2 separate regions of the Homo sapiens genome follow, and region 2 is linked to region 1. Evidence: fine-mapped expression QTL. A gene starts in region 1. The other region holds a variant in brackets. All regions are shown on one strand. Distances are from middle to middle.

Evidence for each region. PIP is the estimated chance that this variant, and not a neighbour inherited with it, causes the effect.
Region 2: its variant is fine-mapped to the expression of UBE3B in whole blood (INTERVAL, PIP above 0.99).

What each region holds. Positions count from the first base shown.
Region 1 is chr12:109,468,208-109,485,084 of GRCh38, forward strand. UBE3B (ubiquitin protein ligase E3B) reads left to right here and starts at 9,427. Exons shown (of 28, transcript NM_130466.4): 1 at 9,427-9,902; 2 at 13,430-13,535; 3 at 15,324-15,505; 4 at 15,654-15,774. The coding sequence starts at 15,345. KCTD10 (potassium channel tetramerization domain containing 10) reads right to left here and starts at 9,093. Exons shown (of 7, transcript NM_031954.5): 1 at 9,053-9,093; 2 at 1,308-1,521. The coding sequence starts at 9,055. RefSeq lists enhancers at 8,006-8,741, 9,250-9,339.
Region 2 is chr12:109,581,189-109,595,666 of GRCh38, forward strand. It overlaps MVK (mevalonate kinase), which reads left to right. Exons shown (of 11, transcript NM_000431.4): 5 at 207-362; 6 at 4,834-4,937; 7 at 5,566-5,611; 8 at 9,583-9,673; 9 at 10,053-10,169; 10 at 13,840-13,993. Among named protein-coding and RNA genes, the nearest start is that of MVK, 15 kb to the left of the region's middle. The variant C/T (reference allele first, on the strand shown) is at 7,829.

The DNA.
Region 1 (16,877 bases):
ACAGGAAGCAGAACCTCCAGCCCCACACCCTGGCCTTCCCCAGGACACAGAGAGGAATGTCCTCACCAGTGGGTAGCCCAAGCCTCAGCCCTCTTAGGATCAGAGAATTAACTGTGGGACACCAGGCTTAGGTCCCCCAATCCCACCCGCTTATGTGAAAACTCACCCACCCTCCCAAGTCAATGTCCCTGGAAAGGTAGGGCAGCAGCACAGAAGACCAGTCTCAGAAACAGGAAGGCGGGGTCAAGGTCAAGCCAGGCTGTGCCCTGGCCTGGTCTTAAGCAATCTCAGGCCAAGGAATGAAGGATGGTACTATTTTTAAACCTCATGTGACCTGCACGCAAACCCAGCCAGGTAAGGATGGAGCCCTGTTGTCAGGGGCTCTTTGATCATTCCAGGTGAGTAGGAAGTAGTTATGACAATGCCCCTCTCAACAATTCTTTGCCTTTTTTTTTTTTTTTTTGAGACGGAGTCTCGCTCTGTCGCCCAGGCTGGAGTGCAGTGGCGCGATCTCAGCTCACTGCAAGCTCCGCCTCCCGAGTTCACGTCATTCTCCTGCCTCAGCCTCCCGAGTAGCTGGGACTACAGGCACCCACCACCACGCCCGGCTAATTTTTTGTATTTTTAGTAGAGATGGGGTTTCACCTTGTTAGCCAGGATGGTCTCGATCTCCTGACCTCGTGATCCGCCCGCCTCAGCTTCCCAAAGTGCTGGGATTACATGCATGAGCCACTGTGCCCAGCCGATTCTTTGCCTTTTAATAACATGACTTTCCACAAGAAAAAGAAAAACGTGTGTGTGTGTGTGTATATCTATCTATCTATCTACACACACACATATACACACATGCACTGAATACTGACTATGTGCCGATGGCCCCACGGGGGAGGGTATTGTCATGCCCATTTCACCAGAGGAAGAAAATGAGACCAAAAGCTTCGGCCACTTGGTTAGGATCACCAGATACTAATGGGGAGCTGAGACTGAAACCCAGGTTGGCAAGTCTTTGTCAAGACCCCATCTTGGGAGGACAAGGGTCCAGGGAAGATACCTCTCTCTCCCCCAGGCTTGAGTTTCACTCTGAAGTCACAGAAGCATGGCAGAGATAAGCAAGCTAAGCCCTGGGTGAGGAAGTGACTTTCTCAAAGTAACATAGCAAATCAACGACCAAGTCAAGATGGTGGGAGTCCCCAACAAGCTGCCTCCTACACATCTTCAGGTCTCGACTTAAATGTCACTTCTTCAGGGAAGCCCTCCTTGACCACATAACGCATGGCCAGAGGCAGGCACATGGTGGGTGAGCTTACCTTCACTGTCGGTGAGCACTTCCATGCGCCCGCTGAACATGGCCTTCAGCATGGTGTCCTGCTTGGTCAGCGTCTGCATGGTGGTATAGTAGAGGGCTCCACCCACATTCAGCTTCACGTATTTGGAGCTGGGGCTCGTGCCCTTGAAGGAAGTGGTGCGGGTAGCAGCCGCTGGCACCGCTGAGCTCACCACACTTTCTCCTGACATCTCTTCCTGCCAGTGGAGAGGATACAGGGTCATGACATCAGGCCTGGTTGACTGCTTTCAGCCTGTGGATTCAATCTGGCCTCCAGATGTGTTTTGCTTGGGCCACGCATACACAGCATTTAAAAGTTTGCTTCCAATGTGGACAACTAAGGAGAGCTCACAGAAAAATCTGGACTTCTGGCTTCTCCTAAAATCAGAGGCCAACTGGGCTAGCAGGGGAACAACTGGTCAGAGCTGGGGTATTGGATGACCCCTAGAGAGGGCCATGCATCCCCTAGTTTGTCCCAAAACCCACCCAAAAAGCCTCATACACTGACCCTGCCTGTCGACCCTGCAGGCACAAGGGTGCCCCTAACTCTTGTGTTATAAGCACTTCCTTTCTGCCTAGCACCTGTATACATGAACACCCTGGCTGCACCCTAAAACAGCCTAAAGCACTGCCCAGGTCTCTTTACATTTCCTTATTGCCATGTACCACTCAATAGCTAGCTAAGTGTCATTTTTCAGCTGCATCACAGATGAAATAAGCTTTATGAAGTTGAATGGGATTCCAGCTGGCACTCCTATCACTTCCTGTAGGGAGAAGGTGTTTCTGAGGACTAAACAACAGACATGGAAACTTTTGGAACCAAGTTATTGCAAAATTAGACCTCCTAGACTAGTGCTGCCCAAAAGAGCAAGATCCCACTACCATCTCCCTGATAGCATGGCTGACTCTCTGTACATCTCAAAGAAATGGATACAGTGGCTGATTTACGCAGGCCTGGAAAGTGAGATTGGTATCCGGCACATGTGTACTCAGAGCAAACATGTCTGAAATGAACAGGTAAAACTGTAGAGGTGGAGATGTGCAAGGGTGGGCAGAATCTTTGCTGAATCTGGGGTAGCCCCCACGGCTGGCCCTACCATTCCCATTGAACATCAACAGTTTTTCACAGCACATCACCCTCAGACAAGGCCACTCTGTGCCCTTGCGACAAGACAAAAACAGGACCATTCAGTCATCATGTCCGGACACAGACAAAAACATAAACATTATCCAAAATACAAAAATGACCAAAGATCCCCTATCCTGGCTAATAGGAGTTATAGCTGCTGCTTTACCAATGAGAGGTTTAGCCTCCTTCCATTCTTCCTGCTTTCAAGTCAGGAATCACTGAGACCCAATCACAGAATTAGCCCTGCTTCCCAGCAGCATCCAACACAGAGCAAAGCCCCACTTCTCTGAACTGTCTCTCAAATCACCCAACACAAGCCCACAGCCCTTCTCTGAGATGTCCCACAGTTCTTCCCCACCCCAATGCAACAAGGAAATAAACCCAACTTTGCTTGACTACAGGTATGCTCCTCGTGCTTTTTGGCTGCAGGGCACTGACAGCACATAACTTGTTTGAACTATTCCCTGAAACTGAAAAAGAATTGTCTAGCTTTTCCAGATTTTCTATAATGAATGGGTACTACAACTATAACTGGTAAAACACAAACGTTATTTTTGTAAATGGGACTGGGAGTAAAGGGAGGCAGCTTGCAACAGCAGAAGCAACGCGACAGTCATGGACAATATTCAATTCAAGGTTATCCAACTCTTCTGGCCAACTCTCCCCAACTCCATGGCACCCAACAGTGGCCTGGATATCACCTGCCATGTCAGGGCCCTGCAGAGTGAAACAGAGAAAGAACGGCCTCCTGGAAAGAAATGTTTTCTCAAGAAACAGTTCCTTTTTCATCAAGAAAAGTCACAAGAAAATATGTTTTCAAAAGCTCAGGCTTAGCTCACCTGGGGTCTTTGCTGCCCGATGCCAAACACAAAAGAGGTCCAGAAGAAGCAGTTACCCCTCCTTTCTAGCTGTCCTCTGAAATCAGTCCCCAGAGACCTCACACTAACAGTTATGACCAGCCACCTCCCTCAGAAAAATCCTTTGTCCATGGGATGACAGGAGTAGCTTATGGAAATAAAAGTTTCCAAAAACTGTGAAGACCTCGAAGGGGGGGAGAAAAGGCTTACGGTCATGGGTGAGGGTGTGTGTTGAGGAAATTTGCCCCAAAATGCAAATACTTTTTAAGCACCCCTTTCAGATCTAATTTTATATAATAAATGCTTGTTATGGGAAACGATCTAGCATTTTGGAAGGTGCCTATCATGAAACAGACAAAAAAGTACATAAAGTATACTTCATGTAAAGTCAAAGCACAGTAAATATGTGATATGAAGGATTTTTTTCTAATGGCATACTTGTATAGGACACTTACCATGAATGGAGTGTGTAGGCCTGGAAATTGCTCTGGGTGAGCGAGTGGTGAGTAAATGTGAAGGTCTAGGACATTACTGTACACTACTGTAGCTTTATCAACACTGCACAGGGAGGCCACACTACATTTATTTAAAATATTTTTTCTTTCCATAATAAATTAACCTTTGCTTACTGTAACTTTTTACTTTAAAAACTTTTTAATTTTTTTTTAACTTTTGGACCCTTTTGTAATAACATAGCTTAAAACACATATTGCACAGCTGTACAAAAATATTTTCTTTCTTTATATCCTTATTCTATAAGCTTTTTTCTCTTTTTTTACTTTTTAAACTTTTTTATCCAAAACTACAAAATACACACACATTAGCCTAGCCTACACAGGGTCAGGATTATCAGTATCACTGTCCTCCACATCCTGTCCCACTAGAAGGTCTTCAGGGACAGTAACACGCATGGAACTGTCATCTCCCGTAAGAATCCCTTCTTCTGGGATACCTCCAGAAGCACCTGCCTGAGGCTGTTTTACAGTTTTCACTTAAAAAAAAAAAGGCAGGTAGGAGTATATTCTAAAATAACCATTAATAGTAAATACATTAACCAGTGATATATCTATCAAGTTCATTACTATTATCGACTATTATGTACTGTACATAATTGTGTGTGCTAGACTTATACAACTGGCAGCAAAGTAGTTCTGTTTACACCAGCATCACCACGAACACGTAATATGTTGTGCTACCACTGAAATGACAGCTACACTATCACTGGGCTACAGGAATTTTTCAGTTCCATTATAATCTTAAGGGACTGTTATATACGCAGTCTGTCACTAACCAAACTGTCATTATGTGCGCATGACTGTACCTTTTTTGGCTTTCCAATACCTTTTTAAAGATAATTTGCACATAATGAAGTATACTTTAAGTGTACAGTTTGATGTGTTTTGGTCAATACTTGCACCTGTGTAGCCCCCACTCCAATCAAGCTGTCTTGGAACATTTCCATGCCTCCAGAAAGCCCCTCGGTGTCCCTTGACCACTGCATTTCTACCACATGCCTTTTACAAATTCAAACAATGCTGGAAGACAGCTATAGTTATTTCCATTTTGTGGATTTGGATGCCACAGCCCCATCAGGGTCAGTCACTCTCAAGCTGGAGTTGAGTCAGTGACGGGGCCAGTGAAGGACATGGGCAAGTGGTGGCTGGCCCAGAGACCATCACACCTAGTAGATTGAGAGCTATGATACATAAGCTGAGAAAGGCCAGCCTCACCTCCCTTCTTTAAAAAGTACAAAAAGCCCTGAAAATAGTCGCGAGGTAAAGTGTGGCTAAGGGTTTGGAGTTAGACCTGTGCATAAGGCCCCAGCCCTACCACTTAGTAGCTGTGTCCAGGGCCAAAAGCCTCACCTCCCTCACAGGGCTCCCTAGCTCTGAGTAAACACTCCAAACACTCAAATTATGATGATTTGAGAATGCTCCCGAAGTCTCAAACTATCTTCTCTTTGGAAACTGTTTCCAGCTCTAATGGCAGACGGCATGACTAAGAGATAAAGGCAGGAGCCATCCTGATCTAGAATGAGACTACAGATTAGGCAACAAAAGCTCTAAACCTTTTCAGAGCTCACCCTCTCCAAAGGTCAGTCAACCTAATAGTAGGCAAGGCCCTTGGGGGAAAAGTTTTGGCAGCATTCGTGTCCTTGAGCCCAAGTTACAGTGAACTTAGGACACGAGGCAGTGGACCAGAGACCCCCACCATAGCAAACCTCTCTAGGGAGGACTCTCCCCACTGTTGCTACTGGAATCCTGCTTTTTTTTTTTTTTTTGAGACTGAGTTTTGCTCTTATTGCCCAGGCTACAGTACAACGGCACGATCTCAGCTCACCGCAACGTCTGCCTCCCAGGTTCAAGCAATTCTCCTGCCTCACCCTCCCGAGTAGCTGGGATTACAGGCATGCACCACCACACCTGGCTAATTTTATATTGTTAGTAGAGATGGGGTTTCACCATGTTGGTCAGGCTGGTCTCAAACTCCTGACCTCAGGTGATCCTTCTGCCTCGGCATCCCAAAGTGCTCGGATTACAGGTGTGAGCCACCGCGACTGGCTAATTTTGTATTTTTAGTACAGACGGGATTTCTCCACATTGGTCAGGCTGGTCTCGAACTCCCGACCTCAAGTGATCCATCTGCCTCGGCCTCCCAAAGTGCTGAGATTACAGGCATGAACCACCGTGCCTGGCCAGGATCCTGCTTTTTGACTTGTTTCAAAGGTTTGATTTCATTACCAATGAAGCTGGGGAGGTGAAGCAGGAGACAGCAAAATTGGTTACATGAAACAGAGAGGCAATGAATACTTGAGATACTGGCTACGGATCTGATTCAATCAGAAGTTTATTCCAGTTAAATGGTCAGTCTCTCTTCTCTCCATCTCCCCTGAATATAATGTTGCTGATTCTAAACAGTGGCTCTCCAGTTGGTGACAATCGAAATCAGCTGGGAGCTCAAAACTCCTGACACCTAGGTCCTACCATGAAAATTCTGATGTAATTGGTCCGGGATGTGGACTAGGCAACAGAATTTTTAAAACTCCCTCAGGAGATTTTAAAGCCCACCAAGATTAGAGCCCACTATTCTAAAAAGCACTGTACCCCTTATTTAAGCTACCATTAACTCCACGGTCTTGGCCCAGTGAATTCCTGACCTGACACATTAAAAACAAACCAAAACACCATAAACCAAAGCCAGCCCCCACTTCACAGCTTCAGAGCCACAGGGAGGAAGCAACTGTATGCATGCATGAAAATACAAAAATCAGCTGAAGGGGGAAAATCATCGACTGAAAAGGAGGCTCAGGCAAGTACAGTAGGAAAAAACGCACCAAATCCCTGACCCCACGTTTTCTATATGCTTCTCTGTAGAAGTCTTGTGTGCCTGTGTGTGTGTTAAGGAAAACGGGATAGTCTCGGCAAACCTGGATTGCAATCCAGTTCCACCATTTCCTTCGTGAAATTCAAGCAATTTAACCCAAGTCTCAGTTTTCTAACTTGTAAAATGGAGTGTTAAAGCCATAATCTTCAAAACCCTCAGAGAATGAATGTTAAAGCATTTGGCACCTAGTCCTTTGTGTAGTTTCCTTTGGGCGTCTCAAACATTGGGATCAGTGGTTCCCAACCCTGGCTACTAGAATCACCTGCGTGTGCTTAAAAAACATGATGCCAGGCCAGGCACAGTGGCTCACACCCATTATCCCAGCACTTTGGGAGGCTGAGGCGGGAGGATTGCTTGAGCCCAGGAATTCGAGACCAGCCTGAGCAACATAAGACCTAATCTCCACAAAAAAATTAAAAAAAAAAATTAACCGGTCATGGTGGCACACACCTGTAGTCCCAGCTACTCGGGAGACTGCGGTGGGAGGACTGCTTGAGGCAGGGAAGGTGAGGCTTTAGTGAGCCAAGATAATACCAGTGCACTCTCCAGCCTGGGCGACAGAGCAAGACCCTGTCTCCAAAAAACAAAAACAAACTCACACACACCTGTGCTTGCCTGGGCTACACCCCAGATCAATTAATCAGTATCTCAGAGATGCGGAGGGGTGGCTGATCAGTCACTAGTGTTTAAAAAGCTCTTTGGGGGATTCGGATGTGGGACCAGGGCTTACTGCCACCTAGCTAAGGTATTTAACCAGCTTTATCTAAGAGTTGCCAGGGATGTGAGGCAAAGCATCACCTCAGGGGATTCCTACAGCAAAGAAGTTTAAGAAACACTGTATTGAGGCTTGTATAAAACCTTCCCAAACTGAGGGCATTTCTACAACTCAGAAAAGTCTGCTGTTACATTTCAACTAAACTAAGTCACATAATTGCAGCATTTTACATCCAAAATTTGCTTATAAGACAGCTACCGCCAATTGCAACTTCCATCAAATGACATTCTCTCCCTGTGTTTAATACACAAACTCTTGGTCTATTTCTCTCAATGTTCTAGTGAGAAAGATGTTTATCATCAACCCCACTTTTTTGGGGAGAAAACTAGGAATCACACCTATAAGAGCCCTCTGACTCCCAACTCCTTTGCCCCTTTCATTACACAGTCCAAATCAAGAAATCATTAGTCTAATCCCTTGCAGGGCTTGTTAAAACCGATAGATGGGCTCCACCCCAAGAATGTCTGATTCAGTAGTCTCTGACAGGGCTTGAAATTTCAGCCATTTTGAATAAGTTACCAGGTGTTGCTGCTGGTGGGACCAGAGTTTGAGAACCACTGGTTTATGCTGCCTTCTTCCCATCCGCTGGTCCTTATTTTGCACAAAATGGAGCGGACTAGTCAACGTCAGCTACAGGATAACTGACTTTTCTTCAGCAGCGTCACTGGGACTGATTTTCCCTTAAGACTGCACTTTCCAGGGACGTGACAAACAAGCAAGCAAGTAGAAAGAAGATCTGGGCCAATCTTTGGTCATCTCTACCCAGGGACAATGAGCTACTCAGGGAACAGACCCTTGAGGATCCCAAGCAGACAAACCCCACAGCTGAGAGACAGATCTTGAAACATCCTCCGCTCCTTAGGCGTGGTCACCTCTGGCCTCAATGGAAGTTACAGATAGGTACCCAGGCGCCAGCTGAGGCACTGAACTCCGTGGCGCAGGTATCCTAACCTCAGGCCCCTGGCATCTCTCCCCAGGATTCCAAGCACTGAACGCACATCAGCCTGCTGGGCTCTCTCGATTTCTTTCCCTCACTGGGCCGTGTGTTCAGACGCACCTGGGAGCCCCTTCCCCACTTCCTGGAAACTCAGCGACTCCAGCCACAACCTCCAAAACGCCAAACGCTCCGCCCCAAGGAATCCTACCTCACCTTCTCATAACCTGCCCATTCATTCTCCTTCATAATCCTCCAAATCCTCATTTTCCACCCCCAAATGTCCGTTTTCAATTGATATCTCTTTGTTCTCCTCGCAATCACCAACTCCCATCTCCAACCAGCACTCAGGACTCACTTGGAGACACCCCTTCCTCACGCACACACGTATCTACTCCGCAAGCCCAAATGTGCTTCCCGGATTCCTAACCGCCAGGGAGCCTCCCTACCACCACCCCCGCCCCTAATTCTCCACCCAAAGCCCTTCCCCCACCCCGGGCCTTTCCCCTAACCAATCCCCCAAATGCCTCTCCACTATCGTGACTGCCCCTCATCACACCCCCTCCTCTCGGTCCCTTCTTATACTCTGCTGCTGCCCAGCTCCCTCGGCCGCCCTCAACCCCTAGTCCATGGGCACCGCCCTCCCTACCATGAAAAGTCGGAGGACGCAGGAGTCTCCAAACCCGGACTGAGAGAGGCAGGAAACACCCAGCTCACGCCAGCCGGGGGCGGAGGCGGGGCCGGAGCGATAACTTCCGCTGTCCGCACCCCACTTCCGCCCCGCAGAGGGCAACGTCTTAAGCCGTCCGTTGTGCGCCTAGGGGCCAGTTTTCTTTCCAGCCTCCCCGGCCGGAGTGGGTTCCAGCTTTTCTCGGCTGGGGAGGGCATTTATCCCACCTCCGCTATTTCAGCTGCCAGAGGGGAGGCAAGGTGTGGGGAAGTTTTCCTTCCCGGGCGAAGAAGCTCTGCGGAACTGTCATTTTCCGGAACTGGATGCTTGCTTCCTGGCGGGGTTCTGAAAGCGAACACCGCGGGGCAAGATGGCGGTAGTGCGTCGGCTGCTGCCCCGGGTCTGGCAGAACTCGGGTGTTTTGGGCTGAGACAGTGGCAGCTGCGGCCCCGACCCCAAGTGCGGGGACCTCCGGCGAATAAAGGTCGGCCTGCGGGTAGGCCGGTAGGGCCTGCGGTCCGGCCTGCGGGAGAACTGGGTCGTCAGTCCTCCGAGTGGTGGGGCTGGGGACTTTGAGGGAGTTGGCTCTAGGGCACAGTCCCTGCCTGGCCAGGTCGGAGGAACAAGTGCTGGGATCTGGCGTGTGTGCTCCAGGGGCTCTTTCCGCGGCCCTTTCCACCTCTTTTCACTTTGGGGACGGTAGGCCTTTATAAACGGACTAATGCTGGGTGATTTGTTCCTGTGGTTGTTGATGCCGAGGAAAGACTCTGGGCCCCAGGACTCACCTAAACTGGAGTTCGAATACTGTTCGCTCGCTGTGTGACCTTGGGTGAGTTCCCTCACCTCTCTGAGCCTCAGTTTCCTTCTGTGTAAATGGAGTAATTAGCAGGTTTCACAGAGGGTGTGAATACGTTTTAGTACCGTGCCTGACACCTAGTTCTGAATAAAGAAAAACTTGATCGTAATTTAACTCCAGCTTAGCCCCCACAGGCAATCTTGCACTCTCAACTTCTCTTTGCTTGGCCATTCTGTGAACGGGGGAGCCCTGGATCTTGTTTGTTTTACTTAGTGATAAATAACTGTTTTGGATATACATGGATTCAGATTCAAAAGCATCCACCTTAGATAGGCTGTAGCTTTCAATAAATAGTAGCTGTTAATATGAATAGTCTCTTTAAGTCGTGTTTCCTATTCTTTAAATAAAAATTAGATTATTGAGGCTGGCCACGGTGGCTCACGCCTGTAATCCTAGCACTTTGGGAGGCCGAGGCGGGCGGATCACCTGAGGTCAGAAGTTCAAGACCAGCGTGGCCAACATGGTGAAACCGCATCTCTACTAAAAATACAAAAATTAGCCGGGCGTGGTGGCGGGCGCCTTTAATCCCAGCGACTTGGGAGGCTGAAGCAGGAGAATCACTTGAACCTGGGAGGCGGAGGTTGCAGTGAGCAGAGTTCGCGCCGCTGCACTCCAGCCTGGGCAACAAAGTGAGACTCCGTCTCAAAAAAACAAAGATTATCGAGAACTGATAGAGCTGTTGAAAAGACAAGTTGGTTAAATAATCTGTGCAGTGTCTGATACACCGTCTGCCCAGAACAAGTGGTGGTGGTCATTAAACCTGGTGGCCCAGCTTTTCCTACTGCACAGGGACAATCCTCTTGGCTTAGTCAGCAGTTGGTATTTATGATGCTTCAGCTTTGGAAATATAGAGGTAAGACAAGAGTCTGAATCCTGCCTCTTAGTTATTACAGCCTTGACTCTGCCACATACTAATGGTCTAGACTGGAGTAGATGAGATCATGAATGATCTTCTCATAGGACTCCTCTCCTTATTAGATGAGATCACTTATAAAGGACTTGACACATAATGGGCACTCATTTACTTTTTTAAATGATCTTGGTTATCACCAACCTCTTATTTTCTAATCTTTCTACCTATATGATTCTTGTTTCCCTAACTAGATTGCAAGCTTCTTAAGGACAATACAATAAAGCTCACTTACATGCTACATGCTTTTAGATATCCTATATTAATATTTTCCCATTTAATCCTAATCACAATGTTGTGATGACTAAATTGAGGTACAAGAAGGATAAATGTTGCATTTAATCCTTTCAGCAACCCTAGGACATAGACACTATTATTACCCTCGATTTACACATAAGGAAACTGAGGCCTAGAGAGGATAAGTAACTTGGCCAAATGTCGGATAGAAGGAGTACTAAAAAGAACCAAGGCCCGCTTTCTCTGATGCAAGACTTTTTCTGCTGCGCACAGCCTTTTCTTTGGTTCTCCATGGCATTTAGCAAAATAAGTACTTAATAAACACTTGATTGTGTGTTTTATTAATTGACGAACTATAGTATACACTGTGCAGGTGGAGAAGGTATATAGGAAAGGATGAGAAAAACTGTAAAGTGTAGGCTATTATATGATATGAACAGAAATCAACCAATAACATTGCTGAAGGGATAATAATCTCAAGGAAGGGGATAAGAGTAATTTCTTATTCTGGGAGGGCCCCTGGGAGAAGTGAAAGTTTTAAGATCGTCTTACAGTGCTTAGGTACAGTTTGCATGCAACTTTGTTTTTCTTTTGGGAAGAGGCTCCCTCTTCCCCTTCTAATTCCATGGACCCTCTGCCATTGAGGCACTGTCTGCATGTCATGGAGGGAGCATATCATTGTGCTTGTGGCTTGGGCCCTGCTCTTTTGCAGTCCTGAGGAGCTTGAATCTGTTACTCACTCTAAACAACAGGGCCAGGAGTTCATAGCCCAAGGGACAGGACTGGTGAATCTTAGTGCATTTAAGATAGGAAAAAAGTTAATGGGTGAGAAATGTCAGACTGCCAGCATTATTTCCTACCCAGAGAACCTTAGTAACTGTCCAGGTGGGAGCCTCTGCTGAAGAGTTTTTTTTTTTTTTTAATCCTTGTGTCTATAAAAATAATACACCAGTTAGACTTCCTGACTATACACTCTACAATGTGCACTCAAGTACCTCCATAGGTACCTGATAAGCATCATCACATTTAGTCCTCATTATCAACCTCTAAGCCAATTAATAGATGAAGATGGAAAGACTCAGGGCCCAGTGTGGTGGCTCATACCTGTAATCCTAACATTTTGGGAGGCCAAGGCAGGAGGATCTCTTGAGCCCAGGAGTTTGAGACCACCAACCTGGGCAATATAGCGAGACCCCACCTCTACAAAAAATTTAAAAACTAGCCAGATGTGGTGGTATGTACCTGTGGTCCCAGCTACTTGAGAAGCTGAGGTGGGAGAATCGCTTGAGCCTGGGAGGTAGAAGCTGCAATGAACCATGATTGCACCACTGCACTCCAGCTTGGATGACAGAGCGAGACCCTGCCTTAAAAAAAAAAAAAAGACTTAGACATTCTCCCTATAGTATGTGGCAGAGCTAGGGACTGGCTCCAACTCTGTGTGACTCCCAAAGCCCGTGTGCCCCTCACTGTGCAGTGCTGCTTCACCATGTGCATGCTGTGGAAAATTTAGAAAATACAGACCAATTAAGAAAAATTTCCCGCAATTTCAGTACCTCAAAACAGCCACTGGTAACATGTTGGTATAGTTCATGCTAGTTTTGTATCTGTGTGTGTGTACATTTTTCTTTAGGTAATTGGGGTCTTATTGGTCCACAGGCAGCCCTTTATTCACTTCTAAGGCATAAACGTTTTTCCATTATCATTAAAAATGTCAAACACGCTGAGGCAGGAGAATGGCATGAACCCGGGAGGCGGAGCTTGCAGTGAGCCAATATCGCGCCACTGCACTCCAGCCTGGGCGACAGAGCAAGACTCCGTCTCAAAAAAAAAAAAAAAAATGTCAAACATGGCCGGGCACAGTGGCTCACACCTGTAACCCCAACTGAGATAGGGTATGGTGGCACACACCTGTAATCCCAGCTACTTGGGAGGCTGAAGCAGGAGAATCGCTTGAACCTGGGAGCAGAAGTTATAGTGAGCTGAAATTATGCCGCTGCACTCCAACCTCAGCGACAGAGTGAGACTATCTCAAAAAAAAAAAAAAGGAAAATGTCAAATATAATTTTCAGTAGCTCTTTAACATTCCATGACCTCTAAGTTATTTTGCTTCCCATCACAGCTGTAATTCAACAACAACTTTGGGATTTATTTTCAACATATTCCCTTTAAACTGTGAGGATTGAAGAGATACAGTATAACATTTAGATGAGACATTAAATAAAGAGGACCCAGTGGTGTTTTTAAAAAACCATTGGCATTGTAGTTACTACTTTTACTCAGTGAGGAAGATGTATGATACCACACCTATAAAATTTAACCCTAAGTCTGGATTTTTTTCTTCTGCTTCTGCCAGAAAAAATAACAAGCTTTTCTGAAGTGAGAAGCTGTTCTCAGCCACGAGTCCTGTGCAAGATCACTAATGATTACCTGGCATTTCTGCGACACAGGCAGGTCCTCAGGTGAGATCTCCAGACTTTACTGCTGGGGCAGGAAGCGTAAATGATTCAGAAGATGGCTACCGTTTCTCTCCAAGCCTTTTATAAGTTGGTGCAAAAGTAATTACGACTTAGTGTTTTTTTAAAAAAGTTGAAACCCACAATTACTTTTGTACCAACCTAATACCTTCCCTCCTGTGGTCAAGTGGGCTCTGTTAGTTTGTTTCAAGGATTACTGATGATGTTTGACAGATCACTGTTGAGAAGGGGTCACAGAGGTCCCTTGATATGTTCATGTGGTGGGAGGCTTGCACCAACTTTTTTTTGGTTATAAAAGGGTATTATTTTATTGTCCTTATTAATACTAATAATAGAGCACACTTATTAAATGCCTTTCAATAACACGTAATTAATTTAATACCTCTAGGAGATAATACTATTAAGTCCAATGTTTATTTTAATAATTTTTAAATTTCTTTGTATGGATGTAGGGGGTACAGGTTTCTTATATGCATATATTGTGTAATGGTGGAGTCTGGGCTTTTAGGGCACCCATCACCCGAATGGTGAACATTGTACCAATAAATAATTGTTCAATCCTTACCCCTGTCCCATCTCCCACCTTTTGGAGTCTCCATTATCTTATTCCACTCTGTTTGTCCATGTGGGCCCATTGTTTTGCTCCCACTTCTAAGTGAGGTCATGCAGTATTTGCCTTTCAGTTTCAGAGTTATTTCACTTAGGATAGATGGCCCCTAGTTCTAGCCATCCGACTTTTTACTCTGGATGATATTTTCATGTGGGTGCTACTTCAAGTAAAGTAGCCTGGTAGAGAGATTGTTTTCTGGAAGTCTGGATTTCTGAATAATTCATTTCAGTGTTTTTAACTGGGCTGATTGTGCATTTTGTATAGAATGGCAATGTCATCAAGCATCTAAAGAAATCATCTCAATATGGGAGCCTCCGGGGGTCAGTGCTGTGTGCTTTAGGCTGCTAGCAAAAGCTGTTCCTTTAGGAAAAAACAGTTACTGGTGATTTAGATAAAAACTTAGTATATAATTTAGAGCTGCTCTTCAGAAAAGCACCCGTTAGTGGACAGGACCAGTTCTACAGTAAAGTCTTCACTGGTCCTTGGCAGGATGGTAATTGTAAGGACAATGGAATAAGCTATACATAAAACCAAATATCTTCAATATAATGGACTGTCTTGCATTCTGAAGTGTGTACCTTTTGCTTTGTTAATGTTGAAATGGCCCTTTCTTTTTTGTGTGCTGTCACAAAGTATGCACTGGTAAATATTTGTTTAGTGAATGGATGAATACAATGATGATGACAGCAAATAATCATGTTGGATTTTTCTCTCGAGTCCTTACTTGGCAAAATAAAAGCTGACCTCTCAGTTTTGGTTTCCCAAATACTGTGGACTACTCCAGAAAATTCAAATATCTGGGAATCTTTGACCTATAGGATACCTGGTTTGAATTAGAGCTTTATGGGTGGGACTGATTCATTCTTTGTTCATTCGTAAAGCTGGGCCTGCCCTTATCCTATGCCAGGTGCTGTGCTCTTTCCCTTAAGAAGATGTGATTATTTAATATAGGATGTAGCATCCCTGGTCTTGGTGAGTTGCATGAAAGAGCCTATAGGAGGTAGGGACTTGTGCCGGAGAGCTGTTAGCGCTTTGGAGGGTGTTGACAGGTCCTGAGTATCTCTGCTGCCCAGGTCCCTGCCCACCCTCTGCTCTTGAGCCCCTTTCTGTGTGTGTTTTTCACACAACAATCTACAACACCCACTTGCCCATTTTCCTTGCAGGGTTTGTGCAAGTTTGCAAACATGTTCACCCTGTCTCAGACCTCGAGAGCATGGTTCATCGATAGAGCCCGTCAGGCACGAGAAGAAAGGCTTGTGCAGAAGGAACGGGAGCGGGCAGCTGTTGTGATCCAGGCCCATGTCCGGAGTTTTCTCTGTCGGAGTCGACTGCAGAGAGATATCAGGTAAGGGCTAGGATCTCCCTAGCACATGATTCTCTGGCTCCCAATTAATAGCAGATAAATGAGTTTTTTCTCATAAAGTGCTTGAAAAGCCTTCCAGGTGCTACAAGCTGTTAATTTAAAATGTCTTTTTTTGCACTTTCTTTTCTAGGAGAGAGATTGATGACTTTTTTAAAGCAGATGACCCTGAGTCCACTAAAAGAAGTGCACTTTGTATTTTCAAGATTGCCAGGAAACTGCTGTTCCTATTCAGAATCAAAGAGGATAATGAGGTAAAACGATAATAGCAAACATGTATAATACTTCCATATGTCAGATCTTTTATAATTATTGATATTAACTCAGTTCTTATAGCAGCTTTATGAGGTAATTACTGTCACCCTCACATCCTGTCCCTTTTGTTTTCTTGGGACCTGTTTTGGAGGGATTATGCCCAGTGCTTTTAGGAATCTTTTCACATTGACCATTATAAGCACAAGTTGAACTCAGATGCATGCAAGAGTCAGGAAGTTTAGGTAAATGAGTAAAAAAAACATATATGAGATAAAACATAATACAAAATACAAATCATATTAAACGGTAACTGACAGGCAGCAGTGGTAAGGACATCAAAAGGAGTAGCAGGGTCTGTGGCCTGCCCCATCCACGGGGAGCAGCTACTACACACCTCGGTGGTGGACTCATACTCTGATTTTTTTTTGAGATGAAGTCTCTCTCTGTCGCCAGGCTGGTGTGCAGTGGCGCAGTCTTGGCTCACTGCCAGTCTTCACCTCCCGGGTTCAAGCAGTTCTCCGGCCTCAGCCTCCCTAGTATCTGGAACTATAGGCTCGTGCCACCACGCCCAGCTAATTTTTGTATTTTTAGTAGAGATGGGGTTTCACCATGTTGGCCAGGATAGTCTCGATCTCTTAGCCTTGTGATCTGCCCGCCTCAGCCTCCCAGAGTGCTGGGATTACAGGCGTGAGCCACTGTACCCAGCCTCTGATTTTTTTTTTTTTTTTTTAAAGAGATGCCAAAGATCTGAGTTTTTATGCTCAATGTTCGTTCATTCATTCTTTCATATTCTGAGACAGGGTCTCACTGTCGCCCAGGCTGGAGTGCAGTAGCACTATCACAGCTCACTATAGTCTTGACCTCCCAAGTCTCAAACGATTCTTCTGCCTCAGCCTCCTCAGTAGCTGGGACTGCAGGTGTGTGCCACCATGCACAGCAAGTTTTTGTATTTTTTGTAGAGATAGGGTTTTACCTTATTGCCCAGGCTTGTCTCAAACTCCTGGGCTCAAGTGATCCACCTGCCTCAGCATCCCAAAGTGCTGGGATTACAGGCGTGAGCTACCATCAATGTTCTAATTTGTAAATCTTGGCAATTAATTTG
Region 2 (14,478 bases), 110 kb after region 1:
AATGAACTTGATACCTGTTTTCTAGTTGTCTGATTCAGCATGAGTTCCTGATGTTCAATAGGGATACATTTGGGGTCAGGAATTCTCCCCCAGTTGAGAAAACTGGACCAGATGCTTGGAGTCAGGCCTGGGCCTGGCCCCTGGTTCAGTGCTGGCACCCCACTGCCCTGCGGGAGAGTCACGTTTCACACCCTGGTGTGTTTCAGGGCCCTGCCGAGCCTGGATATCGTAGTGTGGTCGGAGCTGCCCCCCGGGGCGGGCTTGGGCTCCAGCGCCGCCTACTCGGTGTGTCTGGCAGCAGCCCTCCTGACTGTGTGCGAGGAGATCCCAAACCCGCTGAAGGACGGGGATTGCGTCAACAGGTAACCATGGTCCTTACCTGGCCAGTGTCCCTCCCGCACGGCAGGACAGGGACGTGGCTTCTCTCACTGAGACCTCACCACCTCCCTGTGAGGTGAGAGGTGTCATAGTGGCCATTTTAACATGAGGAAGCTGAGCCCCGAGAGGTCAAATGGCTGGCCCAGGGCCACACAGCTAGTGCTGGCAGAGTGGGATTTGAACTCAGAGTCTGAGCTTTTCTCTCCTGCTCTCCACCACCTCTGCTCACCCCCATCTTGGCTCTGTTGGTTTCAAGCGCCCATGGTATGGTAGAAAGAGCTGGAGTCCAGATCTAGAGGGCAGCAGGTTAGATGAACCCTCCCACCTCTGCATTGACTCAGGCTAGGACAGTGTTCTCCTCTGTATGGTAATGACAGTGCCCTAGGGGTGATTGTCCAGTTTTACCACATGGTTATGAAAGAAACTAAGAGTTTGCTGAGAAATCCACATTAGGGGGTGTGCCCATTAGACTAGGGCATCTCTCCTCCTACGGGGCCGTCTCCACGGAGGGCGTGTCACCTCTCTGCGTTCCTATTGACCACGTGAGTCAGTGAGGCCTGTCCAGACAGGCTTGACCACAGACCATTTCTATCATTAGGAGAATGTTCCTTGAGAAACCACCCAGTGCGCAGAGGTTACGCAGTTTGTCCCAGGACCAGGAGTTGTGGATGAGGCCCCCAAATGCAGAGCTCTGTCCTCTTCCTGGGCTTGTTTTTGTTTTGTTTTGTTTTGTTTTCTGAGCTTGGTTTTTTTGTTTGTTTGTTTGTTTGTTTGTTTGTTTGTTTTTTGAGATGGAGTCTCGCTCTGTCACCCAGGCTGGAGTGCAGTGGTGTGATCTTGGCTCACTGCAACCTCTGCCTCCAGGTTCAAGTGATTTTCCACGGGCCAAAGGACTGGCCCTGTCTTTCAAAAGGTGGAGGGTGACTGTGTGTGTGCACTTGCATGTGTGTGTGTTCTTATGCTGCTTCTAACCATTTCTCCCACCTTCCCCTGAAGGCCAGTCATTCCTTCTCAGAACCCTTAGGGAGAGTAGACCTCCCACCCCACCCCACCCCACCACACCCCACCCATCATGTGTTTCTGAGTCGGAAAGGACTGGAGCCCAGTCTCCTTTGAAGACTCAAATCTGAGCCCCCTAAAAAACAAACTGTGTAGAGCAGGAGGAAGACTCACATTTGTTGAGAGGGCCAGGCCCTGGGCTAGGTCAGCTGCCTGAGTTACCTTCCCCCGCCTCCATCACTCACTTCATCCCAGGCACGCTGCCACCTGTTGGTCCCTGGGAAGGGCCAGCCAGCTCTGGTGTGGTTCCAGTGCTGCACAAGTGGTGTGTCTGGAATGCACCCCACACACACACCTTGCCCAGCTGGCTCCCCTTGTCCTTCAGGCACCACCACCCCGCCCCAGCCCCCAGCAATTCAGCCCATCGTACTCTTACAGAAACACCTGGTTTGTTTTTGTTTTTGTTTTTTTAACTATATTATCATTTATTAAATGTAATTAGGTAGCTCTGGATCCTTGGTCTGTTTTTTTTTTCTTTTATTATTATTATACTTTAAGTTTTAGGGTACATGTGCACAATGTGCAGGTTAGTTACATATGTATACATGTGCCATGCTGGTGTGCTGCACCCATTAGCTCATCATTTAGCATTAGGTATATCTCCTAATGCTATCCCTCCCCTCTCCCCCCATCCCACCACAGTCCCCAGAGTGTGATGTTCCCCTTCCTGTGTCCATGTGTTCTCATTGTTCAATTCCCACCTATGAGTGAGAATATGCGGTGTTTGGTTTTTTGTTCTTGCGATAGTTTACTGAGAATGATGATTTCCAATTTCATCCATGTCCCTACAAAGGACATGAACTCATCATTTTTTATGGCTGCATAGTGTTCCATGGTGTATATGTGCCACATTTTCTTAATCCAGTCTATCATTGTTGGACATTTGGGTGGGTTCCAAGTCTTTGCTATTGTGAATAGTGCTGCAATAAACACACGTGTGCATGTGTCTTTATAGCAGCATGATTTATAGTCCTTTGGGTATATACCCAGTAATGGGATGGCTGGGTCAAATGGTATTTCTAGTTCTACATCCCTGAGGAATCGCCACACTGACTTCCACAATGGTTGAACTAGTTTACAGTCCCACCAACAGTGTAAAAGTGTTCCTATTTCTCCACATCCTCTCCAGCACCTGTTGAGAAACACCTGCTTTGAAGTCACATATTGCAGTGTCATGGATTTGTTTGTATTTGAATACTGATCGCTTTCTGACCTTCACTTTCTCCATTAGACTCTAAGCTCCAAGAAGTCAGGGACCTTGTCTGTTTTGCTCCCTACTAGGAGCTTAGTCACAGGCACATAGCAGTTGCTCAATAAATGCTGAATGAATAAGTGAGTGTATCTTGTTGGCACCATTAAGTTAGTAGCTAAGAGCTTGGGCTCCAAGTCAGCAGATGTGGTCCTGACCCAGCAGTGAGTAGCACTGTGATCTCCAGGATGCTGTTTGACCCATCCAAGCCTCAGTTTCCGTTTCTGTAAGAAACAGGATAATTATTATACCTTCCCTGTAGGGCACAATTGGGAGGATTATGAACCATTTCTCAATGGTCCATTTGAGAAAGCATTTAGCACAATGTTTGGCACATGCTAATCAATAGTATGTTAACTGATGTTAACTCATTATTAATCATAGTCTCACAGCTACCATGTGAGTTGCCAAGTCCGTAAAAATCCTTATTTGGCAGATGAAGAAAGAGACTCAGAGCAGGTAATTGACTTGCTCAGGGCTCACAGCAAGTAAGTGATTGAACCAGGCCCCCAGGCGCTGTGACCCCAGACGGCCTATTTTGAGGGGAGCACATCCTATCTCCTGGGCATTACACAAAGCACTTGTGTATTTTTTCCATCTCAATATCCTCAGTGAGATAGACACTATTATCCCTGTTTTATGGATGAGAAAACAGGGTTTAAGGTGAAGCAGTTGCTCACAGATGCCCAGTGAGTCAGTGATAGGATGGGCTCCAAAAAGGGCTCACTGGCTGGGCACGGTGGCTCACGCCTGTAATCCCAGCACTTTGGGAGGCTGAGGTAGGCAGATCGCTTCAGGTCAGGAGTTCGAGATCAGCCTGGCCAACACAGCAAAAACCCATCTCTACTAAAAATACAAACATTAGCCAGGCGTGGTGGCAGGCGCCTGTAATCCCAGCTACTCGGGAGGCTGAGGTAGGAGAATCGCTTGAACCCAGGAGGCAGAGGTTGCAGTGAGCTGAGATCGTGCCACAGCACTCCAGCCTGGGGGACAAGAGCGAAACTCCATCTCAAAAAAACAAAACTAGGCTGACTGCTTACTCCATAACTCTGCCACTGAGCCACATCATTCTCAGAGGTCAGAAAACCACCTTTAGCTTCTGCTGTTTCATGAGGAAGGGAATCTGCAGAAAGGAAACAAAAGCTGAGAGAAAAGAGTGGGGAAGTGGGGTTGATCATTTTGTCTTGTTCCATACTCATGTGTTTTGGGTCTGTTCATTTAAACTGTTTGTGAGCCCACACCTGGTCCATGGAAGGCAGTGAGGCCACGTGCTTGGGAGAGATCCAGACATGGTTGGGACGAGCCTGGCCCCTCCAGGGGTCTCTGGGGCTCCTGGGATTTGAATTCATAATGATCGTGCTTTGGATCTACTTGCAGGGCCCTGGGAAAGAGTCACACCTCTGCCCGTTCTTCTTAAAGGCAGGCTTGGTTCAGGTGTGGACGCTTATGCAGAGGTCTGTTATAGTGGCAGTTGCCACCTGCTGCTTGTGGACACCTTGCCATCATTAGACACACATGCAGCTAGCCTCTGAGGAGGGTGGGGGTTCCAATTCTCCAGGGAAGGATAATGAGGCTCAGAGAGGTTAGATAACAGGCCCAGAGTCACTCAGCTAGTAAGAGGCAATGCAGGGGCCAGGTGCGGTGGCTCATGCCTGTAATCCCAGCACTTTGGGAGGCCAAAGCGGGCGTTCGAGACCAGCCTGTCCAATATGGTGAAACCCCGTCTCTACTAAAAAATACAAAAATTAGCTGGGCGTGCTGGTGTGCACCTGTTGTCCCAGCTGCTCGGGAGGCTGAGGCAGGAGAATTGCTTGAACCCGGGAGAAAGTGAGCTGAGATTGCACCACTGCACTCCAGCCTGGGTGACAGAGTGAGACTCCGTCTCAAAAAAAAAGAAAAAAAAAGAGGCAAAGTAGGACCACGGGAGTCCAAAGCCCAGGCTGTTTTGACTGCGCCAGGTGGGCTTCAGAGGGAAGGGCGCACACTTGGCACGCTCCGTAGCTGGAGAGGTTCAGAGTGGACTTGTTCTTTCTGAGCTCAAGGGCCCAAGCTCCTATGCCCCTTGGCCTGCCCAGCACAGCCCCAGGTGACCCCTCCCCAGCCCCACTCCTCACTGCCACAGTAAAGATGAACATCTGTGTCTTCAGGTGGACCAAGGAGGATTTGGAGCTAATTAACAAGTGGGCCTTCCAAGGGGAGAGAATGATTCACGGGAACCCCTCCGGAGTGGACAATGCTGTCAGCACCTGGGGTAGGTGTGGCCTCAGGTTTATTTTATTGTTGTTATTTTAAAAATTCTTATTACAATGGTAGGTGCCCAAGAGTCTGTGCTGGTTTGGGAGGAATCGAATCAATGGATTCTGGAAAAAATAGCATTTTCCTATTTTGGGGGGAATGGGGAGAAATCTTGGGGCCCTGTCTCACACCCCCTGAATCAGAATCTCCGGGGGTGGAACTGGGGCCTGGGAAGCTGCAGCTTCCACGAGCTCCCCAAGAGAGTTGTAGGTTCAGGATGCAGAGCCGTTGCCGTGGAGTTTGCACACCATCCAGGTGGCCTCCCCTCTGGCAAGAACTCTTGCTTACAGGGCCCAGATGCTGTGTCCTGGGCCCCACCTTCACCATGTGGCTTGTCGGGGGAAGCTGGACAGTCTGGAGGGAGGGGGACCCAGGAATCCAAGGCCTGGCAAGAGCTTCCTGGTGGGGCTTCGGGGACCTTTTGCCCTCCTGCACCTTTTGTAACTGAAGCTGGGCTGACTCATTACTTAGCCTCTTTCCTGAATGGGGCAAAATGAACCCAACCCAAAGTTCAACCTCTCTCCCAAGTAGCACAGATATGTTAGCTTTTCCCACAGCTCTGACCCACTGGTTTTTCTCTTTAGGAGGAGCCCTCCGATACCATCAAGGGAAGATTTCATCCTTAAAGAGGTAACCTGGGGGTGGAGCAGCACATTCAGCCATGGCTGCATTGATGTGTGCAGGGGGCAGAGCTCTGCACCTTTGGGAAGTACCATAGGAGGCAGGTGTCCCTGGCTCTTCATCCCCCAATGTGGCCCTCACAGTGCACTAGCTGCAAGGAAGCAGGGGTGGTGGGGAAGACCTGCTCTCTCCTTCTCCCCTTCAGCTCTTAAATTGCAGAGATATCAGAAAGGGAAAGTCATGCATGGCTGTGCCCGTAGACTCTCAGCTGCTCATTCATTCATTCCTGTATTTGCTTAGTAAACAAGAATCCATTACTTCCTGTGTTCCCGATGATGCTGCACTGGGGCGTAGGAATGGAGAGATGAAGCTTGGGTACAGTTTCCAAGGACTCTCAGTCTGCTTGTGGGGGTGGGGCCAGACACACACAAAAGCCGCCACAGGACAATGTGAGAGTCACCATGATGGAGGCACACAGGGCAGAGGCAGGATGGAAGCGGGAGGGAGGCTTGGGAGGGGCTTGGAGCAGAAGTGACATTTGGAGACTCTCAGCCTGTTTTATGTTTCTGTGTCCCTCCCGCTGGAATCATTGGAATCACAAACGTGCATGTGCGATTTCAGCATTCTCTGTTCTGTTTGCGATTTCAGCATCCTCTGTTCTGTTTGCACCCACGGCAGAATTGTTGGGTGCCTGGAATGAAACGCATGGCAGAGGGGAGCCAGGTGCCTTTTTGACTGTTCCCTAAGCCCTTGATCAAGTTGTGGGGTGGTGTTTGTCCCAGGGCACTTTGCCACCTCCATGGGCCTTTTCGCATCAGTAAGGGTCCTGGGGCTCTCTCCTCTTTACTCAGGGCGGTCTTCATGGATGAGTGGCAGGTCCTGGCCTGCAGCCCCCACCAGCTGGGCCACTCCATTAGTGGCTCAGTAACCTGGCCTGCCACAGCGCCACACCTGGGCCCCCGGCTAGTTCTCTGGGATCTTTCTGTCCCAGCTCAGTCATGCCTCCCTTTCCAAGGCTGTACGTCAGAGTTGTCAGCATTGGCACTATTGAGATTTGGGGCTGGGTTATTCTTTGTGGTGGGGCTGCCCTGTGCATTGTAGCCATCCCCAGCCCCTACCCACTAGATGCCAGTAGCACCCTCAGCGTGGCAATCAAAAACATCTCCAGACATTGCTTAGTGTCCCTTGGGAGGCAGAATCACCCTTGCCGCCGACCTTTGCACTCCGCAGAAGCCAGTAGGAGCGTGGAACAGCTTCCTCGGGTTGCTCCAGCAGTCGTCAGGAGAGCCTCGGGTGCCGAGGTGAAGCTGGTCTGCCACCGCCCCGGATCCATGTGGAACCAGAGCTGGATCATGTGGGGGAGTCTCAAATGCCCGGGCCCCGGCCTGTCTTCAGGAGCCCACGGTCTGATGGGGAAGGCGGTCACTGGAATCGTCAGAGAGAAGACACCTGAAGGGTTGTGAAGCTGCTGTGGGTGACAGTGACAGGCGTCTTAGATCTGGCTGCGAGCCTGGGGAATCATTCATGGAAGTGGTGGCATTTCATTCCTTCAGTGTCTCCTGAGAGCCACTTGTGGCCTAAGCACTGGACTAGGCCCTGGAGCTAGAAAACTGATGAAGACGTGGGCTGGGCACCGAGTGTACGGTCTACTGGGGGCATCAGGAGATGAATGAGGAGGTTTCCAAGGGGGGCGGGCAGGGGAACGGCCAGGGGAATGGCCAGGCGTTGCTGGTGTGCTGGGCGGAGGCGCTGGGTCCACAGGCCTAGGTTTGAGTCCAGCTCTCCCACTTGCCAGCTGGTGCCCTCAGGTGAGTCACTTCTCCCAGACCTCCAGCTCCTTGTTTACTTAGGGGGATCTTGAACATACAATCAGAAGCGGTGGCTCTGAAGTGCTTACCTGTTTGCTGGCCGAGTTCATTCATCCTTTCCACAAGTATCATTAAGCACCTACTGCGTGCTGAGTACTGGGGCCTCCGCAGGGAACAAAACAAAGCCCCGCCTCCGTGGAACTCATACTTTGTTGGGAGAGGAGAAAAAATCAGTTGTCTGTGAGAGCATATCAGGCAGTCTTAAGCACCTTTAGGAAACAAGGCAGGGTCAGAGGCTACAAAGAGAAGGAGGGGTCCGATTGGATGGGGGTTCGGGGGCTGCTGGTGAAGGAACATTGAGCAGAAACCTGAATAAGTCACGCCGCTATGGGGCGGGGCTGGTCCCTGGCAGAGGAAG[C/T]GCGGTGCAAAGGTCCTGAGACGAGCACGCTGCCTGCCGTGTGACACAGTAGCTGGGAGGTCAGAGTGGCTGAGTGGAGTGAGCAGCCTGGGGAGCGAGGAGAGAAGAAGAGGCTGGGGCAGTGGCCAAGCCCGGATCACAGGAGCGCTTACCAGGCTTACCCCCTGCGTGGTGGCCGCTGGATGGGTATGAGCCCTGGATCTGGTGGGGCTGGTGACAGGCCTGTCTGCAGAGGACTTGTCTAAGAAAGATGAAGATGCAACACCCAAACTCCTCCCGCCTGGCTAGATGGGAGCATGGAGCAAACCAACCTTTGCTGCCTGCTGTGGGGTGCCACGGGAGCAGATGGCGGCTTCACAGAGAAGCTGGGGGCCAGACTCCACGTTAATCCCATGGATGGCTTAAGGAGCTTCCCCCCACCAACCATGCGTGGTGCCTCTCTGTAAAGAAAAAATGCATTGTTTGTGAAGTGGATCAAGATGCGGCCTCCCAGAACGCTGCCCTTTTGAGGAATGGCTTGTCTTAGAAGGGAAGAGAAAAGCCAAATAGAATGTTCATCTTTTGTAAAGTTAAAAAAAAAAAAAAGCCAGCCTCCAAGGCTGAGAATCGATATTAATTTCATGGGCTTATGGGCAGTGAGATAAAGCAGGTTTCTGGCAGCCCTTTCCAGCCCTATTGGATTTTACAATCTTGAACTGTGAAGACAGCGAATAAAGGTATCAAGGGCTCTGCCCGTCTCCAGCTGTCTCGGGCCAGAGCTCATCCAAATCCCCCACCTTCCATCCCAGCCTGCAGCCCTCTGAAAGGCAGGTTGGATGGCAAGAAATGTCAGCTTGAGCCCTCGAAGACGGCTCACTACAAGGACAGTTGGGATTGTGGCTTTAGGAGGGATTTATGCAGCTCCTCTGGGGCAGGTGAGGACCACGGGGTCATGCTAGAGAGTCAGCTCAACGTGGCTGCCTGGGACACGTCTATGTGCCAGAGGGCAGCCAAGGGGATGACTGACTCTACATCTGGTTTTAGACCAGGGCTGCTCGTCCGGGCACCATTGAGGTAGGGCAAGAATGGGCTCAGCGTGCTGGGGACCATCCTCCTCTGCAACCCTGCCCTCCCTGCATTTACGAGCCCGTGCGTGGCACTGCCCGCACCAGCTAGCCTGGGCATCTTCCCTCTGTGTGATCCATTTCAGGGCCTGTTGCTTGGTCTTTCTAAAACTCCAGCTTCGTGGGGGTGACCCACACAAGTGAACCTTCGCCCCCTCCTTGTACTCTGCTATAGCCACTTTGAATTTCTCACTGGATGACTGTGCCGGGTTCCGCCACCTCCAGGCTCACACAGGCTGCTCCAACTGCCAGAAATCCTCACCCTTCTAGCTTTGCTTGGTGGCTTCTTACCCTTCCTCAGTTCTCAGTGTCCACGTCATGCCAGAAAAACCTTCTCGGCCCTTCTCCCCTATCCCCTCTCTGGCCCCGGCCCCAAGGCCACGCTGTGCCTAGCATGTTGTAGGTCCCAGTTGAAGTTGAATGAATAAATGAGTGAAAAGCCAAGGGAGAATGGCCACCCAACCAGTGCCTGGGATGGAGGCGCAGCTGTGGCCAGCAGCAGAAGCCCCATGCTCCCCCAATCCAGTGTCACCTCTTGTGCCTCCCTTCTTCCTCCGTATCAGGGTGGGCGGCTTCCCGGACTGCTCCCAGTCCTGTCCCAGCTCCTCCATCTTGAGTTCAGTGTGGACCTGCCTCCTCTTCACCCTGCAGGTCGCCAGCTCTCCAGATCCTGCTGACCAACACCAAAGTCCCTCGCAATACCAGGGCCCTTGTGGCTGGCGTCAGAAACAGGCTGCTCAAGGTGACTCTTGTTCCCTTCTTGGGCAGGTTTCAGGAAGGCCAGGACACAATTACATCTGGATTTTCGAGGTCTCCCTCTGGCTGATGGGTTATAGGGGGTGTGGTGGGTGGTGGGGGCCCTTAGGGAGGTGGTTTTGGCAGAAAAGAAGGTACCGTCCGTGCCCGTAGCCTGGCCAGGAAAATGACAGTGGTCGGGCTCGTTAGACACACTGACTTTGCAGCTGGGAAGGCAAAAAAACAGGCTCAGAAGAGAGGTGGTTTCCCCAGAGGATGGGCACGGGCTGTGTGAACACCTCCTCCCTCCACCCCACTGCTGGGGCAGCTGTCCTGCATCTGCCTGCCCCCAGGCCTCACCAGCCGTTCCTTCTTTTTTTCTCCAGTTCCCAGAGATCGTGGCCCCCCTCCTGACCTCAATAGATGCCATCTCCCTGGAGTGTGAGCGCGTGCTGGGAGAGATGGGGGAAGCCCCAGCCCCGGAGCAGTACCTCGTGCTGGAAGTAAGAGCCTGTCTGCAGGAACCGGGGTTACTGAGTCCACACCACTGTCCAAGGCAGTGGCTCTGCAATCTGGCTGTGCTCAGAATCCCCCGGAAGCTAGCACATAGAGGTCAGGACCTGCCTCTGGCCTATGCTCTCAGCTGGGCCCAGGTCTGTGCGTGCCATATAAGCGTATCTTATTTTCAGGCCTCTTCCTGGGTGATTCCGAGTAATTGGGAGAGTGCAAGGGAGGCCAGGGCCTGGCTCGTGCTAAGTGCAATGGAAACAGGTTTGGGTCACTTCTAAGGAGCTCTGGCCCACGTAGGTAGATGGGGATGTGGCTGATGCAGAGTGCTCTGTCGGTGCAGGGGTGACTTCTTGGTCACTCTCCTGCTATTGCTAACTTCATGGGTGCATTCAACAACTACTTGTCAACTGCCTGCTTTGGGTCAGACAGATCCTAACATTGTTTTTTCATCATTGCAACCCCATCCACTGCCATTTGCATAATTCTAGTGTAGAGGTTGTGACCTGGTACTTTGGGTGTGATCAGGCCTGTGTGTGAATCCCAGCTCCACTTCTGCTGGACGTGTGGCCTCGCTAGAGTGTCTTAAGAATGCTCAGATTAGACGGGCGCAGTGGCTCACCTGTAGTATTAGCACTTTGGGAGGCCAAGGCAGGTGGATTGCTTGAGTCCAGGAGTTCGAGACCAGGCTGGGCAATGTGGTGAAACTCTGTCTCTACAAAAAATACAAAAGTTAGCCAGACATGACGGTACATATCGGTAGTCCCAGCTACTCGAGAGGCTGAGGCAGGAGGATCACTTGAGCCCAGGAGGTCAAGTTTGTAGCCTGGGCGACAGAATGAGACCTTGTCTCACACACACACAAAAAATGCTTGGAGTCTCATGGGTGACACGCAAGCACAATGTCTGGTGTGCTATGAGCTTAGGGAACCAAAGAGCCCAGGCTCCCCCTGGACACAGTCCACCTGGCCTGGTGAATATGGGCTGTTAGCCATCTGGCTGCCCTTGCAGAATGAGAGGATCGGGTGGCCCCTAGCTGCCGTGGCTGTGCAGCAGCCGTCAGTGAAGGGACAGGAGAGGGGCGTGCGGTCTCCATGTCACCACAGTCCCTCCCCGCGCCCCGCACTCTGTAGTCATTGCCTGGTGTCTCCCGGTCCCCCGTGGGCATTCGAGTCTGTAGCCCCTGTGCTGAGTGGAAGCTGCCACTAAAGCAAGCCTTTTACAAATGATTCTTTTCACTTGATCCTCACACCCACCTCCCTGTGAAGTAGGTGTCTTATCCCTATTTTACAGATGTAAAAACTGAGGCCTGAAGAGAGACTTCCCCCAAGGTTATCCAGCTAGTGAGTGGCCGAGCCAGGGGTCCAGCCGACGGACTGGTCTGTCCCTTTATTCAACAGATCTGTCATGAGCACCTACTATGTGCCAGGGCAGCGCCTCCATCGAATTCCTGTGTTTCGGCCCTCATTCCCTCAGTCTTTGTCTTCCTAGCTCTCAATTCCTTCCACATAGAAAGGAGGGAACACAGTCCCCCCGAGTAGGAAATCAATAATGATAGAATACTGCCTAAAATACACCCTGTCGAGTCCCTGGAGAATGCCACAGAACAGCACGTTGATTATACATTGTGTGTATTTTTGGCTGTGGCAGCCGCTGAAATGTGCAGCTCAGCTCCTGGACAGCTTTGCACTCAAACCAGCGAACTGTTCTCCTGTGTCACAACCTGTCATCTGATCCTTGACAGATTTTGGATCAGAATGTGACAGGTGTCTGGAACCTGCCTCGGCAACGTGACACCTGGTGCTCAGGCGCAGAGAGCGGCCCCCAGAAGTCTTCTCTCACATCCAGCCCATCAGGCTGGTGAGAGGCACCCGGGGCTGCCACCAGGCCATCATGCCTGTCTGCTCATTTGTCAAAAATGGTGAGCTTGGCGCAGAGCGAGGTATGAGGCAGGCTGTTGGGGAGGGCCACTCCAACCCTGCCTGACCGGCCATCCCCATGCGGGAGAGCTAGGTGGGCCTCCGCAGAGATGCCTCAGTGATTGGCAACTCCTGGTATACAGGCAATCCAGGTGCCCCGGAACAGAGCTTCACACGGAAGTGAGGAATGCCAGGGGGTGCTCTCAGAGGCAGGGTAGACAGGAGCTTCATGTCAGGCAGACCCGCCTTCCAGTGCCAGCTTGGTACCTACTAGCTCAGTGATCGTGGGCAAGTCACTTCTTCTCTGAGCCTCTGTTTCCCCTTTTGTAAAGTGGGGATGATGCTAACGTACCCATAAAAATACTAACAGCACATATCTCGTGCCAGGCATTGAACAGAAAACTCACCTTGTTTCGTCTCAGGGCAAAGAAGCAGATTTTTTTTTTTTTTTTTTTTTTGAGACAGAGTCATCTTGCTCTGTCGCCCAGGCTGGAGTGCAGTGGCACAATCTTGGCTCATTGCATCCTCCCAGGTTCAAATGATCCTCGTGCCGCAGCCTCCTGAGTAGCTGGGATTACAGGCACACGCCAACATACGTGGCTGATTTTTGTATATTTAGTAGAGATGGGGTTTCGCCATGTTGGCCAGGCTGGTCTCAAACTCCTGACCTCAAGTGATCCACCCGCCTCGACCTCCCAAAGTGCTGGGATTAAAGACGTGAGCCACCACACCCTGCTGAGGCAGATACTCTTATGACCCCGGTTTACAAGCAGGAGACAGACCCAGTGCAGAAGACCTTGCTCAAGGACACACGACCAAAAAGGGGCAGAGCAGAGACTCGAACACAGGCCTACTTGACTCCAAATCCCATGGTTTTTACTTCCTGATGGCTGGGACCGTGGCTGGGCACCCATCCTTAGAGCCCCAGCACGTTGTGGGTGTTTGGTAAATGAAATCTAACTACTGGGTGCCTGGGCAGTGGAAGCTGTGAAGTTTTATTTTTTCATCCACATGCATCTTGTTGGATCCTTAAAGAGCAGGAAGTTTATCCTGCATAACTGAAGAAACCTAGACAAACAGCTGTTTCCCTGCTTATGGCCTTGCTGGAGTTACACCTAGTTCTTATTCTGAAACCAGTCCCCAAGGCAGCTGTAGGGAGGCATGTTATTTGAAACTTTTTCTCTTGCAAATGGCAGAAATCCATTTCAACCAGACTTTTGTAGAAAGGGAATGTATTGGCTCTCAACTGAGAAGACCAGAGGTAAATGGCTTCAGGTATAGCTCAATCCAGGGGCTGAAACAATGTGTCGGGAATCTGTCCATCTGCCACGTAATATCTGATCATGTGGCAAGATAGGTCATCTTGGCGACTTGTGTCTGAAGTTAATTATTTTAGCAGCTCTAGTGGGAAGGGGCAGAGGAAACCCTGGGAGGGCTGTGATTGGCCCAGCTTGGACCACATGCCCATCCCTGATCAGTCACCAGTGCCAGAGGCTTCTGTGACCAGCCCTAGGATATGTGCTCACTGCTGTGGTGAAGGTATGCTCAGCTCTACCCAAGCTCCGTGAGAAATGCTGCAGGGCAGAAGGATTCTTTTACAAGTGGAGAGGGCCAGGGTGCCAGGTAGGCAAAGCCGTTGGCTGTCTCCAGCCAACAACTGTCAGATGGACGAGGCAGGCTCAGGGGTGGGCATAGGACCTTGGCCTCAGGCAGGCCAAGTGGGAACAGATGGAACCTTCTCCCCTAGGAGCTCATTGACATGAACCAGCACCATCTGAATGCCCTCGGCGTGGGCCACGCCTCTCTGGACCAGCTCTGCCAGGTGACCAGGGCCCGCGGACTTCACAGCAAGCTGACTGGCGCAGGCGGTGGTGGCTGTGGCATCACACTCCTCAAGCCAGGTATCCCGGGGGTAGGTGGGCCAGGCTGCCAGCCTGGGCTCCTAAGAGGGGTCCACCTGGAGAATTCCCTTGAAAGGAAAAAGAGACCTGGAAACAGGTCTCAGCTCCGCTGTGTGGCCTTGGGCAAGTTAGTTAACCTCTGGTCTTTGCTTCCTCATTGGTAAAATAAGGATGAGAGTATCTAGCTTGCAAGATCGTTGCCCAGATTCAAGCAGGAAAGTGCACCTAGAGAGCCTGGTGCAGGGCTGGGCTGTGGCTGGGGCTCCTGTCATCGGGGCTGTCCGCACAAGCTTGGGAAGTAACCAGGGCATTGTCACTCTCCACGTCTGCCTAACCTTGCCCCACTTGTACCCTTGATGTGGTCAGGATGCGGTTGATTTTGCTACAAAACGAAAGGGTTTCCTTCCCGTTGGTTTGGGGAAAGAGGAAGACCGAGTAATGGGCTTGGCTTAGGAAGCTCCCTGGTGCCTGGGGGCCTGGCAAGG